Linked DNA regions of Homo sapiens. The protein of the gene in region 1 purifies or fractionates together with the protein of each later gene. This does not show direct contact. Each region holds a gene or a part of one and is shown in the gene's direction. Other genes may lie near its edges. The genes, in order: DYNC2LI1, TTC3 and PCYOX1.

What was found.
Region 2: the proteins of DYNC2LI1 (region 1) and TTC3 purify together in Homo sapiens (affinity purification with mass spectrometry; 2 studies listed by BioGRID and IntAct, with this or other methods). This does not show direct contact.
Region 3: the proteins of DYNC2LI1 (region 1) and PCYOX1 purify together in Homo sapiens (affinity purification with mass spectrometry; 2 studies listed by BioGRID and IntAct, with this or other methods). This does not show direct contact.

Annotation. Positions count from the first base shown.
Region 1 is NC_000002.12:43,790,963-43,798,073, forward strand, and holds part of DYNC2LI1 (cytoplasmic dynein 2 light intermediate chain 1), read left to right. Parts: intron 1-3,494; coding exon 3,495-3,681; coding exon of another isoform or gene 3,682-3,780; exon of another isoform or gene 3,781-4,217; intron 4,218-4,924; coding exon of another isoform or gene 4,925-4,927; coding exon 4,928-4,996; intron 4,997-5,755; coding exon 5,756-5,833; intron 5,834-7,111. UniProt on the Homo sapiens protein: Acts as one of several non-catalytic accessory components of the cytoplasmic dynein 2 complex (dynein-2 complex), a motor protein complex that drives the movement of cargos along microtubules within cilia and flagella in concert with the intraflagellar transport (IFT) system, facilitating the assembly of these organelles.
Region 2 is NC_000021.9:37,146,143-37,153,253, forward strand, and holds part of TTC3 (E3 ubiquitin-protein ligase TTC3), read left to right. Parts: intron 1-1,338; coding exon 1,339-1,461; intron 1,462-2,403; coding exon 2,404-2,505; intron 2,506-3,935; coding exon 3,936-4,028; intron 4,029-4,677; coding exon 4,678-4,742; intron 4,743-5,750; coding exon 5,751-5,887; intron 5,888-6,808; coding exon 6,809-7,111. UniProt on the Homo sapiens protein: E3 ubiquitin-protein ligase which catalyzes the formation of 'Lys-48'-polyubiquitin chains. Mediates the ubiquitination and subsequent degradation of phosphorylated Akt (AKT1, AKT2 and AKT3) in the nucleus.
Region 3 is NC_000002.12:70,268,087-70,275,197, forward strand, and holds part of PCYOX1 (prenylcysteine oxidase 1 precursor), read left to right. Parts: intron 1-6,872; coding exon 6,873-7,084; intron 7,085-7,111. UniProt on the Homo sapiens protein: Prenylcysteine oxidase that cleaves the thioether bond of prenyl-L-cysteines, such as farnesylcysteine and geranylgeranylcysteine. Only active against free prenylcysteines and not prenylcysteine residues within prenylated proteins or peptides.

The DNA of each region.
Region 1 (7,111 bases):
TCAGCACTTTGAGAGGCCAGAGCCAGTGGATCACTTGAGGTCTGGAGTTCAAGACCAGCCTGGGCAACATAGTGAGACCCCATCTCTACAAAAAAATTAAAAAATAAAATTAGCCAGGCATCATAGCAAGCCTCTGTAGTACCAGCTACACAGGTGGCTGAGGCAGGAGGATTGCGTGAGCCAGGGAGTTCAAGGCTGCAGTAAGCTATGATCATACCACTGTACTCCAGCCTGAGTGACAGAGTGAGACATTGTCTCTTTAAAAAAGAGAGAGAGAGAGATAGGGTGGGAGGAGCTTCCAGTTACAGTGGCCAGAGGCTGAAAGGGTGAAAATACAGGAGGTGGCTCTTACCTGGGTTGGGAGTCGCCTCCTATTCAACTGACTTGTTTTATTACCTCACTCCCCTTCTTGAAGCCCAAAAGGTTTTGGCCTGCTGGGGTTGTGGAAATTCTAGGTTCTGCAGGAAGCCAGATCATCCCAAGGGTTAATACCTCATTTGTGAGGTCTTGGGCTTCCTTTCCCTGGAGCCCCATGACAGCTGGGACCTGCTTTAGGAGAGAGGAAGGGTCAGGGTTATGATCAACAGAGGGAAAGGGAAAGGGAGCCATAGGCTTGGGTCTAAAGTAGGTTGCTGGGTGGTTAAATAATTCATGGAAAAACATTTCATTCACCATGTCAAAAACACTCAAACTGTTTTTGACTGGAATTAGTTTGACACATAATTTCCTTGTGTTGGATGAAGTCTCACAACTTGAGAAAACAATATTGCCAAATACTGTTAGATACTGTTTATCTTTGAAATAACTGTTTATAGAATTATAAATGCATTGAACATTTCCACACACTTTAGACAATTTGTAATAGAACATTTCCTGTAGTCTGAATCTCTGTTTTAGGAGTTTATGTAAAAAAATTTTTTGGCTATCATTTGCTATGAAATAGGTAAAAAGTAACAAAAGTATTTCTAATATACTGTAAACAAAAATTTTAATCTTAGAAAAAATTTGAGTAATTTATTTTTCTTTTGCTTAGAATAATTTTTCATTTGAAAAAATAATAAATTTTATGTTATATCCATTTCATCACAATGAAAAAATGTTAAATCATAGTTGAAACACAACCATACCAAAACCCTGAAAATGAAATTAGTACAATTAAAAATGTATATACTATTTTTACACTTAAGCAAAACTGCTTATGAGCTTATTAAAATGACATAAATATAATTGCCTAGACAATGTAATAGCACAATAATTTTTAGAAAATTTGATAATTAATGTGTAAAAGACTACTTTCTGAATTTAGACCAACAGAATTGTTACTGTTTTGCTTGAATTATACAAAATAGCCTGTTTACTTGAACTAAACAAAATAATTAAATAACATATTATAATTTTGTGCTATGTCTTCTAGCAGAATGTTTGCTGTGTTGATCAAGGATATATTGGTTATATTGGATATAATCCTAAACCATCAAGGATTATGGTTCTACATACTTATTATAACCATTTTTAAAAATACTCCTAGATTTACAAATGTTTAGTTTTTATTGTCGTAAAATATACATAGCGTAAAATTTTAGTCATTTTTAACTGTGCAGTTCAGTAACATCAAGTATATTCTCATCACCATACATCTCCAGAACTTTTTGATCTTCTCAAACTGAAACTCTTTACCTATTAAACAATAACTCCTTGTTTTTCCTTCCCCAGCTCCTGGCAACTATCATCCCTACTGCCTGTCTCTATGAATTTGACCACTCCAGTACCTCATATAAATGAAATCATTCATTATTTGTCCTTTTGTTATTTATTTCATTTAGCATAACGTCTTCAGGGTTCTTCCGTTTGTAGTATGTGTCAGGATTTCCCTCACTTCTAAGGCTAAATAATGTTCCATTGTGTAAACAAATACCACAGTTCAGTTATCCGTTAATCCATGCAGAACATTTGGGTTGTTTTCATCTTTTGACTATTGTGAGTAATGCTGGTATGAACATTGGTGTACATTATCTGTTTAAATCTCTTCCTTCAGTTCTTTTGGGTTTAGACTCAGAAGTGGAATTGCTGGATCATCTGGTAATTCTATGGTGAATTTTTTGAGGAATCACTATACTATTTTACACAGTGGCTGCACCATTTTACATTCCCATAAGCAATGTACAGGGGTTCTAATTTCTCTGTATCCTCACTAATACTTGTTATCTTCTCATTTAAAAAAATGTTTTAGGCCAGGAGTGGTGGCTTACACCTGTAATCCCAACACTTTGGGAGGCTGAGGTGGGTAGATCACCTGAGGTCAGGAGTTCGAGACCAGCCTGGGCAACATGGTGAAACCTCGTCTCTACTAAAAATACAAAAATTAGCCGGATGTGGTGGTGCATGCCTGTGATCCCAGCTACTTGGGAGGCTGAGGCAGGAGAATGGCTTGAACCCGGGAGGCAGAGGTTGCAGTGAGCTGAGATCATGCCACTGTACTCCAGCCTGGACAATAGAGACTCCTCCTCCAAAAACAACAACAAAAAAATGTTTTGACAATAGCTAGCCTAATGGATAGGAAGTTGGACATCTTTTCATGTGTTAATTGGCCATCTGTATATCTTCTTTGGCGAAATGTCTATTTGAGTCTTTTGCCTTCTTTTTTTTTTTTTTTAATATAGTTGAGTTGGGGTCTCACTATGTTGCCCAGGCTGGTCTTGAACTCCTGGCCTCAAGTGATCCTCCTGCCTCAGCTTCCCAAAGCTCTAGAATTACAGACATGAGCCACCATCCCTGGCCTCTTTGCCCATTTTTGAACAGGAATGTTTGTTTTTGTTGCCGAGTCTAGGTTTATGTTTGATGGGCATGAACAGAATACAAGTGCATGTGGTGATGGTGGTCATGTATCTGGTGGTCAGGAGTGTGCTTTCAGAGAGACAGAATGGTATTGCAGAAAAACGTGTAACTTTGGATCTAAATACCAGTTCTACAATTTACTAATTATATAAATCTGTGCCTCAGACTTCTAATCTATAAAATGGACATTATAACATCTTCTGGAGAGGGTTATTGTGGAGATTAACTAGGTAGTTCCCTAGCAAGGTCCACCCATATATCTATTTTCTTCTCCTTTACCTGATTATTGTGTTACTGTTTTTGCTTCTTTTATTATTTTTGCTTCCCTTTTTTGGAGCACACAGTAAAACTGGATGTAAACGTGGCATTGTCGATGCAAATGCTTGGAGCTTCTCTATTTGAACTAAACTACTTTTAATTTTAGTTCAAACAGAAACTTAGTTCCACTATTGTAACACTTAAATATTACTAGAGGAAAGTATTGGAATAAATAAGGCTATGACTTTGGTTTTTTGTTTTTGGGAGTCTTAGAATAATGCTACGGTTTTTTTTTCCCCTTAAGGTATATTTTAGTTATTCTTAGATAAATTTCAGTACATTAGGATTTCAAAATGGTAATTATTTTGAGTCTTTTTTGAAAAGTGTTTTTATTTCTTTAGGACGTTTTCTCTTGTTCTCGTTCTGGATCTTTCAAAACCTAATGATCTCTGGCCCACCATGGAAAATCTCTTGCAAGCCACAAAAAGCCATGTAGACAAAGTGATAATGAAACTGGGAAAGACAAATGCTAAAGCAGTTTCTGAAATGAGACAGAAGATCTGGAATAATATGCCGAAGGATCATCCTGTGAGTTGCTGTTTGGGATTATTACTGGAATCCTTAGTCCCATTTATAGTTAATGATAACATCACAAACAACTTCTTTAGATTTTTATGCATGACTTGAAATTCATTTGATGTAGATGAACCTGTTCACTGGAAAATTACAGCAATTTATTAAAACCTCAGTAAGAGCAAAACAAGGAAGAAGATTCCTTATATCTTCTTGTTAGACATCTTCTGTGATTGTTATGGCATATTACACCAATCAGAGAAATAGAGTTTTAAAGTAGTGGTTTGATATTGATTTTATAATCTCTGTAAAAATGAAGATAAAAAGCCAGATTGTACAAAAGTCACCTGACAAAGACTAGATGAAGCTACAACTTTAAGCAAGGGGTAGAGTTGTAATAGCCTTCACCATCACTCTGTATTTTACATTCATTTCGTTTCTGTCACTTATTCAGTATCTTTTTATCATCTGACAGCTAATTAAATTATAAAGTTGCTATGATGGTAACACAAGTTCTTCAAATACAATAATAAATATCATCATCTGGAAAACTGAGAGCAGCATTTTATATTATCCAGAGTTTATAAGAAAGTGTAGCAGGGTGCGATGGCTCATGCTTGTAATCCCAGCACTTTGGGTGGCCGAGGCGGGCGGATCACGACGTCAAGAGATCAAGACCATCCTGGCCGACATGGTGAAACCCCGTCTCTACTTAAGATACTAAAATTAGCTGGGTGTGGTGGTACATGCCTGTAGTCCCAGCTACTTGGGAGGCTGAGGCAGGAGAATCGCTTGAACCTGGGAAGTGGAGGTTGCAGTGAGCCGAGATCGCGCCACTACACTCCAGCCTGACTCCAGAGGGAGACTCTGCCTCAAAAGAAAAAAAAAGAGAGGAAGTGTTTTTCATAGGAAATAATGGAACAAAACAAATCTATGCTGGATAAATGCTGTTCCAACAGTCAACATAAAATAGAATAAAAAAAAACCAGGAAGGTAATATGTTATATAAGGAAATAAAAGGGTAGAAAAAGGAAAATAATAAATATCATAGTAATTTAGGGAATTGCCATTTCTAGTTTTACACTTATGAAATATAGCTTAGGAAGTGAAAGTTAAATATTAGAACAAATTCTATGTCAAGCAAATTAAGTAAACATCTATGAAGAGACTGAAAATGGAATGTTTTTGGAAGTAAATAGAAATTGCTAAGCACCTAGCAATAAAGAATTACAACAACTCAAGGAAATATGTTTATTAGCAGGATCATGAATTAATTGACCCATTTCCGGTACCTCTGGTCATAATTGGAAGTAAATATGATGTTTTTCAGGTAAGCTCTTCCGCTTCTAGCTGAGTTTGTTGTACATATATGGCTGTGCTTTTTATGAGGGAGGTACAAAAATAATATCAAAATAAGAAAAATAATTATTGAAGGAATCGGTTAAGTCATGCATCTTAAAGATTTTGGAAAAGACATAGTTGGGACAGAAAAAAATAGGTAAAGAAAATAAATGCAGTGATTAGAATGGGGATAAGGCAGATTTAGAAAATGAATCTTGCCGGGCACAGTGGCTTATGCCAGTAGTCCCAGCACTTTGGGAGGCTGAAGGGGGAGGATCAATTGAGCCCAGGAATTTGAGGTTACAGTGAGCTGTAATCACACCACTATACTCCAGCCTGGGTTACACAGTGAGACACTTGTCTCAAAAAAAAAAAAAAAAGTCTTCAACCCAGTCACTGGGGAATATGACTTACTTCCCAACTTTTAAATGGAAGAAAGTAGAAAATTAGTTCCTTCTTATCTTTGCTTGTCAGAGAATCGTTAGAATTCCACACTATGAAATGTGTGCTTATATCTAAATTCTATTGAGCTAAGTATTTAAACAAAGAAAGATCTGTTAGCTGTAGTTCTAAGAAGGCTGCAGCTATTGTTCAACTCTCTATGAAATAAATATCAAGGTAATGGAATCCTATTCCTGAAAGTGAGTTTAAAAAAATAAGAAATAATCTATTCTACATTTAATAATTTGAATCTTCCTGCTATAGATATTTGGTTATCTTGACTTTTTAAAATAACATATTTCTACAGGATTTTGAGTCTGAGAAGAGAAAGGTAATATGCAAGACACTTCGATTTGTTGCACATTATTATGGAGCATCATTAATGGTTTGTACATTTCTTGTCCTTTGGGCTTGAATGGACAGTACCAAATTTGGGGAAATCAGCAACTTGATGCACAGCTACGAGGAATAAATGCTTTTGCTAATGCACATGGTCCCGTTGCTTTCCCACTGCTGAAGACCTCTCCTTACAGAGTGTTTGATAATGCATCTGTTGAACATGCACTGCTAGATGGTCTCCCCCTTCTTTGGAACAAAAGTTCTAAATTGCTTATATCCATAAATCCCAACCAAGTTTAAAGAGATAAGTTGATGATCTATTTATTCATTTTTGGTATCCCCTTAAGAATTAGAATCTATATTCCCCTAAAAGAAAAACAAAAATCAACTCTATCAGTGTGTGTATTGGGGATGGGGGCTCTTTAAAAAAGTGCTGTTTGTTGTAAAAGTTAAAAACATGAAATCTGAAGTCATGCTCCCTGGGTTCGAATCTCAGAGTGACCATTTATTAGACGTGTGATCTTCGGCAAGTCACTTAATTTCACTTAAGCCTCATTGTCCTCCAGGGTAAAATGGAGAAAAACAGTACCTTCTTCATAGGGTTGTTGTGAGGATTCAAAGAGGGAGTACATGTGAAATGCTTAGCACAGGGCCTAGAACAGAATATTACTCAATAAATGTTGGTTATTATATCACTGTTATCATTATCTCCCATAGCAGGACTAAACTTTACTAAATGTCCTTTAATGCAATAAAATATAACAACTTTTTTTTTTTTTTTTTTTTTTTTGAGACAGTCTCACTCCGTCACCCAGGCTGGAGTATAATAGCATGGTCTCGGCTCACTGCAACCTCTATCTCCTGGGTTCAAGTGATTCTCCTGCCTCAGCCTCCTGAGTAGCTGGGACTACAGGCACGTGCCACCACACCTGGCTAATTTTTGTATTTTTAATAGAGATGGGGTTTCACTATGTTGGCCAGGCTGGTCTTGAACTCCTGACCTCATGATCGACCCTCCTCGGCCTCCCAAACTGCTGGGATTACAAGCGTGAGCCACCATGCCTGGCCAAAACATTTTTATTTAAAAAATTTCCAGCTGGGTGCAGTGGCTCACACCTGTAGTCCTAACACTTTGGGAGGCTAAGGCGAGAGGATCATTTGAGCTCAGGAGTTTCAGACCAGCCTGGGCAACATGGTGAGAACCTGTCTCTACAAAAAATTTTAAAAATTAGCTGGCCATGGTGGCACACACCAGTTGTCTCAGCTACTTGGGAGGCTGAGGTGGGAGGATCACATGAGCTCAGGAGGTCAAGGCTGCAGTGAA
Region 2 (7,111 bases), on another chromosome or scaffold:
TACGTAAGTATTGGAACCTGGGAGGTTGAGGCTGCAGTGAGCCTTGATTGTGCCACTGCAGTGCAGCCTGGGCAACAGAGTGAGAGTCTGCCTCAAAAACAAATGGCCAGTCTTGGTGGCTTACGCCTGTAATCCTACCACTTTGGGAGGCCAAGGCAGGAGGATTGCTTGAGCTCAGGAGTTCAAGACCAGCCTGGGCAACATGGCGAAACCCATCAATACAAAAATTAGCCAAACATAGTGGCACATGCCTGTAGTCCCAGCTACTCAGGAGGCTGAGGTGGAAGGGTCAGTTGAGCCCAGGAGGCAGAGGTTGCAGTGAGCTGAGATCGTGCCACTGCACTCCAGCCTGAGTGACAGAGTGAGACGCTGTCTCAAAAAAAAAAAAGAGTACTGATAACATGCTGCAGCATGGATGGACCTTGGAAACATTATGCTAAGTAAAAGAAGCCAAACACAAAGGGCTTGTGTGAGTCCATTCCTATGAAATCTCCAGAATAAGCAAGTCTGTATATAGTGACAGAAAGTAGACCAGTGATTGCTGGGCCTGGAAGGTTAGGGGAAAATGAGGAGGGACTGCTAATGCGTATGGAGTTTCTTTTTGAAAATGTTCTAAATTTAGACCGTGGTGATGTCAGCACATCCTGTGAATATGCTAAGAACACCGAACCGTACACTTCATTTGAGTTGTATAGTGTGTAAATTATGTCTCAACAAAGCTATTATAAAAAATACAACACAGGGATTCTTGGATTTACCTCTCTTCATACAAGATTGGGATAGAGGCATAGGAGCTATTGATAACAAAAAGCCAGCACTGGAAGCATGGCATGAGTCTCTTGGGGGCTTCATTAGCAGTGGAATAATTCTCCAGGGAGTCCACAAACAACAGTGGCAGAGCTGCAAGGAGGAAGATAATGGGAGTGTTAGGATTCTGGATGAGGTGATGTTGGGCAAGAGGAGCCTGGTAAAGTCCTCAGGATTACCCTAAGGGTTATTCTGCCTTACTTGACTTCCTCTTAATGCTTATGGAAGATTTCTGAGAGCTGTAAATTATAAAATGCGATTTGATGATTGTAACAGGACAAAATTTTGATTCTTTCGAAATTCTGAAAAAAAATTTTGTCCAGTCCTCTTTTTAAATCTCTCTTATGTCTCTTATCAGCCTTCCTTTTAAAAGGAAAAACTTTAAAAGTTGTATGTAGTTTGTTGTTGGTGAAAAAATTTAGTCATTCTTATGCTGAAAATATTTTGATGGCAAGAGGTTATTGAAATCACAAGCATTTTTATTGACAGATTAGTATTGTAATGGTATCATTTTTGTTTATTTTGTTTTAGATGCTGTTAGAGAAATTTGTTGAAGAATGCAAGTTCCCTCCAGTGCCAGATGCCATTTGTTGCTATCAGAAGTGCCATGGATATTCTAAGATCCAGATATACATAACTGATCCAGACTTTAAGGTAAATAATGAGTGTACAGTGGGACATTAACTTGCAAAATCATTTCTTAAAATGGGCTCAAAACAATCTGTAATTGGAGGCACCCAAGTTCTCTGGCTAGTTAGCAGTCGTCCACCCCTTTCCCAGGATTTTTTTTTTTTTTTTGAGATAAGTCTCACTCTGTCACCCAGGCTGGAGTGCAGTGGCACGATCTTGGCTCACTGCAACCTCCGCCTCCTGGGTTCAAGCAATTCTCCTGCCTCAGCCTCCCAAGTAGCTGGGATTACAGGCGTGTCCCAGCACGCCCAGCTAATTTTTGCATTTTTAGTAGAGACAGGGTTTCACCATATTGGCCAGGATGGTCTCGATCTCTTGACTTCGTGATCCACCCCCTCAGCCTCCCAAAGTGTGGGATTACAGGTATGAACCACCACGCCCAGCCTTCCTGGACTTTTTTAGGTCTACATCGTCTCACATGGGAACCAGAGCCACTGATGTATAAACGCTCTGGGCTGGGGTAGTGACCTGAGAAGGCAGGCTGGCTCATTCTTTTTCCTCTTCAAGCTACCTTAGGAGGATAGGAAACAAAGTGAGATTGTTACCTCTGATTTGTTGCAATTCTGATCTCTCATAAAATTTGAGTCCCAAATCTAAAGGTCATTGTGATCATTGAATTAGCTGTTAGAGACCTAAATTTGAGATAAGTCTGGCACTTAATTGAGTTATACTGGTTTATTCAAGAAGCTAGTAGCTGCCCTTGTCCTGCTGTTCCAATGTCCCTGGTTAGTAAATCAGATGAAATAATGTTTATAAAATATTTGATATATTTTGAAGAATGATGCAACTTTATGCTGTGGAAATAAATATGTTAGTCAAGCTCTCTCTGTCTTTATGTATGTTGTAGTGAGTGAGTGTGCAGAGACATCTTTAAAACGTTAATTAAAAAATTTTTTGTAACCCTAGGGTTTTATACGCATCAGCTGTTGCCAGTACTGTAAAATAGAATTTCACATGAATTGCTGGAAGAAGTTAAAAACTACAACCTTTAATGATAAAATTGACAAGGTAAAGCATAACAGGATTGTCTGAATTTTTCAGTATACTTATTGTATGTCAATTTTTCCCCCAAGAATTCCTTCCTGAACATTCTGCACATAATTAGAAAATTTTAAATTATAACTTTAATAATAAAGTGGAAAATCAAATTTGTTTTTATTTGGACAATCATAAAGGCATTAACCATAGAGGCTTTGTTTTTTTAAAGAGACGGATCTCACTGTGTTGCCCAGGCTAGAGTGCAGTGGTGCAGTCGTAGCTCACTGCAGCCTCAGACTCCTTGACCCAAGTGATCCTACTTCAGCCTCCCAAAGTGCTGGGATTATAGGCATGAGCCACTGCACCAGGCCCCACTTGAAAGTTTTGATGTGGAATTAGGGATTTCAAAACCAAAATTTGATGAGGTAATTTGTACTAAGAAGTCAACTCAAAACAATTTTTTTAATGTTGGGAAGAAAGATCAACTTCAATTTTAAACTGCCATTTCTCTCCAGGGATTTTCTTATTACCAAGATAATGATGTTAATTACCATTAAGTAGACATACTTTGAGGGAAGTCATAGTATTACAATCTTATTTGTATTCATAGAATTTGTTTCTGATCTATAGAAACTATGGACCTTTTCCTACACTTCTTAGGCTTATGCAGACCACTGTTCTTATTGGGGAAAGAATGAGGCAGTTGTACTAGGCATCTGTTAACAATAGCAATTATTAAAGTATGGTAGAAATAAATTCTCACATTTTGTACATTTTCACATAATTAATTAACAATATAATGATATGAGTAAATAACTGTCACCTTTGAGTCACTTCTGCTATGTCTTTGTCTTACCTAAATTGAGTTTCTCTAGTGATATACCCTCTTTTAGTGGTCTTAACTATTCCCATCATTTTAAATACACTCTGTAAATTAGTCAGCTTTCCCTAGGATATGCTGAAGTGATGCAACCCAAATATCTTGTGGCATACATCAGAGAAGTTTGTTTTTTGCTTACATGACTTGTCCTGCAGTTCTGCAGTTGTTGGCTGGGACTGGGCTGTAGCAGCTTTATTTTGTGTGGCTCTATTCCTTGTTTCTCAATCTAAGTTGAAGAATGACCCTTTTCTGGAACATCTTCCTGTGTCAGAGGAAAAAGAACAATGTCCAGTCTATGAAGTGTTTGTTAAACCTTTTGTCTAGACATGTGTATGTCATGTCTGGTCACTTTGCATTGATGAAAACAAGTCACATGGTCAGACCCACACCTGAAAGTATATTTTTCCTACACGGAAGCCTTAAAATTCGCATGGCAGTGAGTAAGGATTTTCACCACTTGCCTGAAGATGGTTTTAGTCCGTATTTTGACTGTTCCTAGTGGTAAAAATAGTATACGTGTATAGATTTATCCCCCCTAGACATAACATTTTTCTTGTTTTTTTTTTTTTTAATCAAATAGGATTTTCTACAAGGAATATGTCTTACCCCTGACTGTGAAGGTGTCATTTCTAAGATTATCATCTTCAGCAGTGGTGGTGAAGTTAAATGTGAAGTAAGTAATAAAGGGGAAACCTTGTTAGATAGATAACCAAAATGTTTACACCTTTTGAAACATGATTTGAATTTGTAGATATCATGTAATTTGGATCTTTTCCAGGAAAGAAACAATTACTTCATTTAAGAAAATATAGGAAATACTGGGATGTGAGAATGCTTCATTGTAATGAAAGCATTCTTATATTCTTTTATTTCTTAATAGGAAAAGGAGGCTTTTTATATCTTAGTTTTACTATTTTTACTGTTTTTGATAACTTCATTTTCTTAATCCCGGTAAACTTTTGGGCAGTAGTGGGTGTGCAGGTTTTTAGGGAGGGGGAAGAGCGTCTTGAGGGATTACCTTTAACTTCATGACATGGGAATGGCAAGAGTGGGTAGTTGTAATAATATTTACACTTTATTAGATCGTCTGCTTACTCTTAATTTTTTAAAAACTTTTTCCTCAAGTGTGTCTACCCTCTTGTTCCTCTTCAGTAAATTATTTTGCTAAAGCTTTCTGGGCTTTTGTCTGGGTCAGAACATCATCACTGTTCTCTATCAAACTGAACATTATGTGTGCTTCTGAAATACTTGTTACTTGTGGTTTTGTGTTTTATGTCATGGGAGTATGAGACAAATTTTGGATGTCTTTGTTTTATTTAAAGTTTGAACACAAGGTCATAAAAGAAAAGGTTCCTCCAAGACCTATTCTGAAACAGAAATGTTCTAGGTAAGATTTTTAACAATCAATCAGTGGTTTGATGATGTCTCTTAGAATATAATTCTATTAAATGCAGATTTCTAAATTATGCCTTTTTAAAAATTGGCTGTGTATACATATATTCAAATAAGTGTTTTTTAAAATGATTTTTATGGAAAATTAAAACTTAAAGAGAACTAGCCTAGAATGATTAAATACTAAAAACTTGATTCAGAATTATTTATCTAGTGGTTGAATTTACAATTAAAATTATAACATTTGATGCTGTGAAATTACATGTTTGATTAATAGATTTGGCATTTATATAAAAACTATACAGTTTGCTCTCAGTTGTTGAAACTTTAATTCCAAAAGCATATTTTTCTTTTTATCTCTCTTCAGTAAACATTTTGAACCTATGACTATTTTTTACCCTGAAATACTCAATGTACTGTCTAAATTATTACTTCTCTATAGCTTTTTGTTTAGATCAAATAATTCAGATTCTTTTTTCTTTTCTTTTTGGTCCTGCTTCTTGTTTTTCTTTCTAAGAAGTGATTTTTTTTTATCATTTGTGACCAAGAAAAAGCAAAAGAAAAGATGAACAGAATTATTTGTTGGAGAGAATTCATTGTAACCAGATCAACCAAATTATAGTGTTGTGGGTTATTATTGAGATGTGAAAATTATATTTTACTATGGGACCTTTCTTAGAAATGAGAGTTTACATGAATTATTTTGCAGAGTAATTTGTACTATTTCTGTTTACCCTATGAAGTAACTTAGATACATGAAAGTGACATCTATACAATCTGTAGACTGCATCCTTAGACATCACCTAATCATTGAGGTTTTTGTTTTCATGAAACAAGTACCCTTATTTTGACAATACTGACAGTTTCTTACATTGAATGGAAGATGTAGGCCGGGCTCTGATTAAAAAAGGAAAACTTCTAATATATTGCTTGGAAGATGGTTTCTACGATAGTCAAAGGAAAACAGTTCATTGAGTTGTCACTAATTGTAAATGTTTATCAGCCTAGAGAAACTAAGACTGAAAGAAGACAAAAAATTGAAGAGAAAGATCCAAAAAAAAGAAGCAAAAAAGTTAGCACAAGAAAGAATGGAGGAGGACTTAAGAGAAAGTAATCCACCCAAAAATGAAGAGCAGAAAGGTATGCAGAAGCCAAAGGCATGATAAGAATAATATACTCTCATTTAAATGTATAAATGTAAGCATCTTTTGGGCCTTATATTCATCATTATTGAATTGAAATAAAGATTTCACTTAGTAATTTAATACTATCACTGTCTTCTGTTACTCGAAGACAGAATTGGGTTGGTGTAAAGAACACTGAAAAACCTTTCAGAGATTGTATTCCCACTGAAAAACCTTTCAGAGATTGTATTTTAACTTTCTGTGCTTAATGACTAAACATATTTATTGTATATAAAGTTAAGGTAGTTGATGAGGCTGGGTTAGGATTGTTGAAGGAAGTGGCCGTATTTTAGGGGAACTAAGTTGTTTTTTTTTTTTGTTTTTTTTTTTTGAGACGGAGTCTCACTCTGTTGCCCAGGCTGGAGTGCAGTGGCGCGATCTCGGCTCACTGCAAGCTCCGCCTCCCGGGTTCACGCCATTCTCCTGCCTCAGCCTCCCCAGTAGCTGGAACTACAGGTGCCCGCCACCATGCCCAGCTAATTTTTTGTATTTTTAGTAGAGATGGGGTTTCACCGTGTTAGCCAGGATGGTCTCGATCTCCTGATCCACCCTCCTCGGCCTCCCAAAGTGCTGGGATTACAGGCATGAGCCACCACGCCTGGCCTAGAGGAACTAAGTTTCAAATGCTACTACATGAATGGTTCAGAATGAAGGGTGTAAAATGCTTACTTTTGGTATGTTTATTTTAGCGTACACTTTCATGTCTTTTCAAAAGTATTGTTAAGTGTTTATATTTCTAATTAAAGTTTCTTGAGTTTAGTAAAACAGTATAATCAATCTGAATCATATTTTATATTATGTAATTTTGTTATTTCTAAGTTTATGTAATTGTGAATTAGTCCTATTTATCACTTTAACCATTGTTATTTATCCTTAGAAACTGTAGACAATGTTCAGCGTTGTCAGTTCCTTGATGACAGAATTCTACAGTGTATAAAGCAGTATGCTGACAAGATTAAATCCGGCATACAGAATACAGCCATGCTTCTCAAAGAATTGCTTTCTTGGAAAGTTTTGAGCACAGAAGACTATACAACCTGTTTTTCTAGCAGAAATTTTCTAAATGAAGCAGTGGACTATGTTATTCGCCACTTGATTCAAGAAAATAACAGAGTAAAGACAAGAATATTTCTGCATGTTTTGAGTGAGCTTAAAGAAGTGGAGCCCAAATTAGCCGCCT
Region 3 (7,111 bases), about 26 Mb from region 1:
GTGTGAGCCACTGCACCCGGCCGTAAATTTGTGTTGTTTTAAGCCACTAAGTTTGTGGTAATTTGTTATAGCAGCAGTGGAAAACCAAGACACCTCCTAAATCATCTGCCATTACTGTTATATTGCTACCATTTGTTCTCAGGTTAGCAGCCAAAGTAGTTCTTTAAAATCTAAGGCTCATCACATCACTCCACTAACTCAGAAACCTTCAGTGGCTATTTCATTAATAGAGATTTATAGCCAAAATCTGTTTTGTGACTGAGAAGACATGACAGGATTCTGTGCTCTCATCCCTTACTTTTAAATTTGTTTTCCCCAAAATTCATAGGTTGAAACACTAGCCACCCAGTACTCAGAATGTGACTGCATATGTATGTAGGGCCTTTAAATATGTGATTAAGTTAAAATGAGGTCTTTAGCGTAGACCCTAAAACAATTTGATGGGTGTCCTTAAGATTAGGACACAGAAAGGAGGCCAAGGCGGGCAGATCACCTGAGGTTGGGAGTTCGAGACCAGCCTGACCAACATGGTGAAACCCCTTCTCTACTAAAAATACAAAAAATTAGCTGGGCGTGGTGGTGCATGCTTGTAATCCCAGCTACTCAGGAAGGCTGAGGCAAGAGAATCACTTGAACCTGGGCGGCAGAGGTTGCAGTGAGCCATTGCACTCCAGCCTGGGCAACAAGCGTGAAACTCTGTCTCAGAAAAAAAAAAAAAAAAATTGGGACACAGAAGAAACACACAAAGACCATGTGAGGACACAGCAAGAAGGTGGCCATCTGCAAGCCAAGGAAATAGGCCTCAGAAGAAACCGAATGCATCCACACCTTGATCTTGGACTTTTGGCCTACAGAACTATAAGAAATAAAACTTTTTTTGTTTAAGCCATCCAGTCTTTGGTACTGTGTTATGGCAGTCTTGGTGAACTAATACACTGTTGTCATTTTCAGTAACTGTCCATTATTGAAAATGGGATATTGAAGTCTCCATTATTGTTGAACTATGTATTTCAGTTCTGTCAAGATCATTTGATCATATTCATGAAGGTTTATTTCTGGGTTTTCTTATTTGTTTCAAGGATCTGTGTGTCTGTTTTTTTTTTTTTTTCAGATGATGTTTTACTCTGTTGCCCAGGCTAGAGTGTAGTATGTTCACAGCAACCTCTGCCTCCCAGGCTCAAGCAATTCTCCAACCTCAGGCCCCTTGAGTGGCTGGGACTACAGATGTGCACTACCATGCCCAGCTAATTTTTTTTTTTTTTTTTTTGAGACAGAGTCTCGCTCTGTTGCCCAGGCTGGAGTTCAGTGGCGCTATCTCGGCTCACTGCAACCTCTGCCTCCCGGGTTCAAGCAATTCTTGTGCCTCAGCCTCCTGAGTAGGTGGGACTACAGGCATGCACCACCAACCCTGGCTAATTTTTTGTGTTTTTAGTAGAGATGGGTTTTCGCCATGATGGCCAGGCTGGTCTCGAACTCCTAACCTCAAGTGATCCTCCAGCCTGTGCCTCCCAATGTGCTGGGATTACAGGCGTGAGCCACTGCACCCGGCCTTTTTTAAAAAGTTTTTTTGGTCAGCCTCTTGTAGTCTCTATTGATGTCATAGCCTCCGGCATCTGTGATGTTAAACAATTGCCACAGATTTTTTTTTTGACACGTGGACACGTGCCCTCAGGATGGGGCTGTTGCATAGAGTGAACTTTGAATCAGGTCGAATAAAGACAAGCCTTCAGGATAGAGCTTTTTCGGAGCTGCCAGATAGGTCAAATATTGACAGTTCTCTGAGGATAGTGCTTTTTGGGAGCTACAAACTCGTTGTGTTCTCTCCAGTGGCTTCTAGCTTGCTAGTTTCACATTGCAGTTGGAAGGGTGCTGGTTTTATTTTTTATTTTTTTTTCTCTCTCTCTTTTTCTCTTTCTTTCTTTCTTTCGACGGAGTCTCCCTCTTGTCGCCCAGGCTGGAGTGCAATGGTGCGATCTTGGCTCACTGCAACCTCCATCTCCTGGGTTCAAGCGATTCTCCTGCCTCAGCCTCCTGAATAGCTGGGATTACAGGCGTGTGCCACCACACCTGGCTAATTTTTTATATTTTTGGTACAGATGGTGTTTCACCATGTTGGGCAGGCTGGTCTTGAACTCCTGACCTCAAGTGATCCGCCTGGCTCAGCTTCCCAGAGTGCTGGGATTACAGGTGTGAGCCACCATGCCTGCCAGACATTTTTCTTGAATAAATACTCCTTGGACTTGGAAAGGCTTTGGTTTATCTGCAGAGCTCTGAAAGAGTCAATGTTGATCATTTTTGGCAGTATTCTCATAGCTTTTATGGAGGAGCAGATTTCCAGAGGTCCTTCCTCTGCCATTCTGGAAGTTTCCTCTCCCCAGTAACATTTCTGGCTGTACCACTCCCGGTTCTCCCATATCACTCTGCTTCAGCTGCTCTGGCTTCATTGTTTCTTGAATGTGCCAGGCAAGCTTCTGTCATGTGACCTTTGCATTGCTTTTACCTCTACCGGAAATATTTTCCCCCAGGTGTTTGCCTGGTTTGCATCCTCATCTCCTTCGGGTCTTTGGTCTATATCATCTTCTCAGTGAGGCTTTTCCTGACCACTCTTGTTTTTGGACAGTCTTATTTAGAATTCAACCCTCCTAACCCCATGTATTTCTAGTCTTCTTTTCAGACCATTTTCTCCTTTTTTTTTTCTTTTGAGATGGAGTCTGTCTCTGTTGCCCAGGCTGGAGTGCAGTGGCACGATCTTGGCTCTCCTCGGCTCACCTTGGCTCACTGTGCCACTGCACCACTACGCCCGGCTAATTTTGTATTTTTAGTAGAGACAGGGTTTCTCCATGTTGGTCAGGCTGGTCTCGAACTCCTGACCTCAGGTGATCCACCTGTCTTGGCCTCCCAAAGTGCTGGGATTACAGGCGTGAGCCACTGTGCCTGGCCCCAGTTATATTTTTTTAAAAATTATTATTTTTTTGTTTTTGTTTTTGTTTTTTTTAAGACAAGGTCTCACTCTGTTGCCCAAGCTGGATGGAGTGCAGTGGTGTGATCACAGCTCACTGCAGCCTCAACCAGCGGGGCTGAAGTGATCCTCATGCCTCAGCTTCCTGAATAGCTGGGACTACAGGCATGCCTCACCATGCCTGGCTAATTTTTTTTTTTTTTTTTTTCTGTAAGTATTTTATTTATCACTGAAGAAAAAACACAGCAGCAAGTTCTGTGTTGGCTTCAATGAGACCAAATAGTTCATCTTTAACATAGCTACTGCGCTCCAAAATTGAAGTCAACACAGTCATTACTACAAATTACTTGTTGAAAGAATCTATCTTCAAAAGAAAGAAAATTAGGAAAGAGAATTTAAACGATTCCTCCAAACCATACATTTATAAATATTGTCATATTTAAAATGCTTGAAAGGCGTGAATTCTCCATTAATGGAAAAGCAGTTTGCTATTGGCAACAGAAAAAAACTCAGCGATAATTTACCAAATGCTTTAAAATTTAAAAGCTATACTGTTTGGATTCACACTTGCGCAGTAATCTTGTCATTACAACAACTGCAAATTGCTTTGTACTCACCTTCTCTCAAGTAAAATCTAAAGAAAACCCCACCGTATCCAATGTTTGTAATGTTTACTTCAAGTGAATCTAAAAAATTTCTAAATTTAGTTTATGGTAAATACCTCAAAATACCTAAAAATAGGTACGTATCAACCACTTAAGGGTGTGAAAATTGTTTCAGATTCACTGCTTTAAAGGGTCTTCAAATATATTTTCTTTAACAGAACCTTACTTCATTCCAAATTATTATCAGATATTTCAAAATAAAAAAAAAGTATCAGTTCTATACCAAGATAAAGGTGTTACTCAATACCTGAAGGTTCACATTTTAAATTTATTTTTTAGTTTTTCTTTTTTGTCAACAAATGATTGATGAAATAATGCAACACCCTTAAATTCCAGAAAATGGCATGGTTTTTCCAACCTCCTGTGGATATGGTGCATGATCAATCTATTATATAGGAGCCTGGCTAATTTTTAATTTTTTTTTTTTTTTTTTTGAGAGGGAGTTTCACTCTGTCACCAAGGCTAGAGTGCAGTGGCACGATCTCGGCTCACTGCAACCTCTACCTCCCAGGTTCAAGCGATTCTCCTGCCTCCACCTCCCAAGTAGCTGGTATTACAGGCATGCGCCACCATGCCCAGTTAATTTTTGTATTTTTAGTAGAGGTGGGGTTTCGCTATGTTGGCCAGGCTGGTCTCAAACTCCTGACCTCAAGCGATCTGCCCGCCTCAGCCTCCCAAAGTGCTGGGATTACAGGCATGAACCACTGCGCCTGGCTAATTTTTACATTTTGTGTACAGACAGAGTCTTGCTATGTTGCCCAGGCTAGTCTTGAACTCCTGGCCTCAAGGTATCCTCCTGTCTTACTCTGTCACCCAGGCTGGAGTATATTGGCTGGCTGTTCACAGGTGCAACCATAATGTACTACAGCCTTGTGCCCCTGGGCTTAAGTGATCCTCCCACCTCAGCCTCTTGAGTAGCTGTGACTACAGGTGCATGCTGCCTCACCTGGGTGCTGTTTTTTAGTAGTATTTATTCTGTTTTTTCATTTATTATTATTATTTTTTTGAGATGGAGTCTTGCTCTGTCATCCAGGGTGTAGTGCAGTGGTGTGATCTTGACTTACTGCAACCTCTGTCTCCTGGGTCAAGCAATTCTCATGCCTCAGCCACCTGAGTAGCTGGGATTACAGGCATGCACCACCACACCTGGATAATTTTTGTATTTTTAGTAGAGATGGGGTTTCACCATGTTGGCCAGGCGGTCTCAAACTACTGACCTCAAGTGATGCTGCCCCACTTTGCCTCCCAAAGTGCTAGGATTACAGGCATGAGCCACCATACCCAGCAGTGTATTTATTCTAATACGATTAGTTGTATCATGAAACAATTAGAGTGCTCTCTGTTTATATTGTGTATATAGTTTCATCTCACCGCTGCCACCCCGCCCCCTCCCAGGGAGACTTGCTTGAGTGAGGTTGCAGCTCTGGCAGGAGCAGTTGGGGAATATGTTTTTTATAGCATCATTAGTAGCTTATTTAATTGACTGTTATTTTCTCATGTTGACCATTAGCCAAAGATCACTCTTCTTTGGATATGAGATATCCAGGCTATTATTTTTCTGAAGAATTCAGTGTTTCCATCCTACTTTTTCCAGTCTCCTAAAGACTGGGACCCAAATGCTATGGTTAGAAGGTATTTAGTTTCTCAGTTTTGGCATAGATATCGAATCAGTTTTTCCAATAAAAATGTGTTTAACATTTTGTACACTTATACTACTACTATGCTTTTAGTAGGTAATACTGAAATGGTTATAATACTGTCCCTTGTTCTGTAAAAAAATATAGTACATTTTGAGAGAAAAACTTGATGTGAAAGTTTCCCTTCCATGATCAGTGATAGGGATCTTTCCTTGGCTCTTAATTTCTTATTTTCATATACTTATCTCTGCATGTGCCTTATTACTTATCCCTAACTATAAGCCCCTTAAGGGAATAAGAGATAAACCCCGTATTACTTATCCCAAACTTAAGCCTGTTTTCCATCTTTGTACTATTTGCAACATGAAAAATTGTGTTTGAATTACTGAATGCACTAATTTATGTGAATGTTGTTTTAAATCCATAAAATGCAGAGAAGTGTTGGGTGATATTTTTCTTTTTGGTCAAGTGATGTTTTCTAAAAAATAATAGAAAGCATCTAATTGTTGAATGAGTGGCATTGGTGCTAAGTTTTATGAGGCTTCTGGAGATGATATAACTGTGGACTGGGAAGTTGAGCAAGACTTTTCAGAGAAGGTGGGATTCAAGTTCTGTTAAGGAAGAATAGATGTTCCATGGTTAGGAATGGGAAGTGTATTCAGGTTGGAGGGAAGAGCTTGTGCACTGGTGGGGATACAGCATGTAGGGCAAATTTAGAGACCAGTGAATGGGTCAGGTGTGCTCCAGTGGAGACTGTGCATGTGTGGGTGATTGACAGCAGAGTGGGCAAGTTGTGATTGAGCCTTATACTTGCCATGTGGCCTTTAGACAAAGTATTTTACTTCTACTTTTTTTTTTTTTTTTTTTTGAGATGGAGTCTCGCTCTGTTGCCCAGGCTGGAGTGCAGCGGTGTGATCTCGGCTCACTGCAACCTCCGCTTTCTGGGTTGAAGCGATTCTCCTGCCTCAGCCTCCTGAATAGCTGGGATTACAGGCGTGCGCCACCAGGCCCAGCTAATTTTTGTATTTTTAGTAGAGACGGGGTTTCACCATGTTGGTCAGGCTGGTCTCAAACTCCTGACCTAGTGATCTGCCTGCCTTGGCCTTCCAAAGAGCTAGGATTACAGGCATGAAACCACCGCGCCTGGCCTTACTTCTACTTTTTATTTTTCCTTTTTCTTCTTCTTTCTTTCTTCCTTAGTTTCTTTTCTTTTTTTTTTTCTTTTTTTTTTTTTAAGAGACACTGTCACTGTCTGGCCCAGGCTGGAGTGCAGCGGCATTATCACAGTTCACTGCGGCCTTGAATTCCGGGGCTCAAGCAGTCCTCCTGCCTCAGCCTCCCAAGTAGCTGGGACCACAGGCATACACCACTATGCCTGGTTAATTTTTGTATTTTTAGTAAAGCTGGGGTTTTGCCATGTTGGCCAGGCTGGTCTTGAACTCCTGACCTCAGGTGACCTGCCCACCTCTGCCTCCCAAAGTGTGGGGATTATAGGCGTGAGCCACTGCACCTAGATGTCAGTTTGATTCTTATGACGCCACTTCCCTTCTTTATACATCCCCTTCCCCACATCTTGTTTGGTATTTAATGGATTTCTCTTCTTTTCCAAAGGATCTACCGCTACCAGTCTCATGACTATGCCTTCAGTAGTGTCGAAAAATTACTTCATGCTCTAGGAGGAGATGACTTCCTTGGAATGCTTAATCGAACACTTCTTGAAACCTTGCAAAAGGCCGGCTTTTCTGAGAAGTTCCTCAATGAAATGATTGCTCCTGTTATGAGGGTCAATTATGGCCAAAGCACGGACATCAATGCCTTTGTGGGTAAGCCAGGGCTTGAAACAGTGGTGG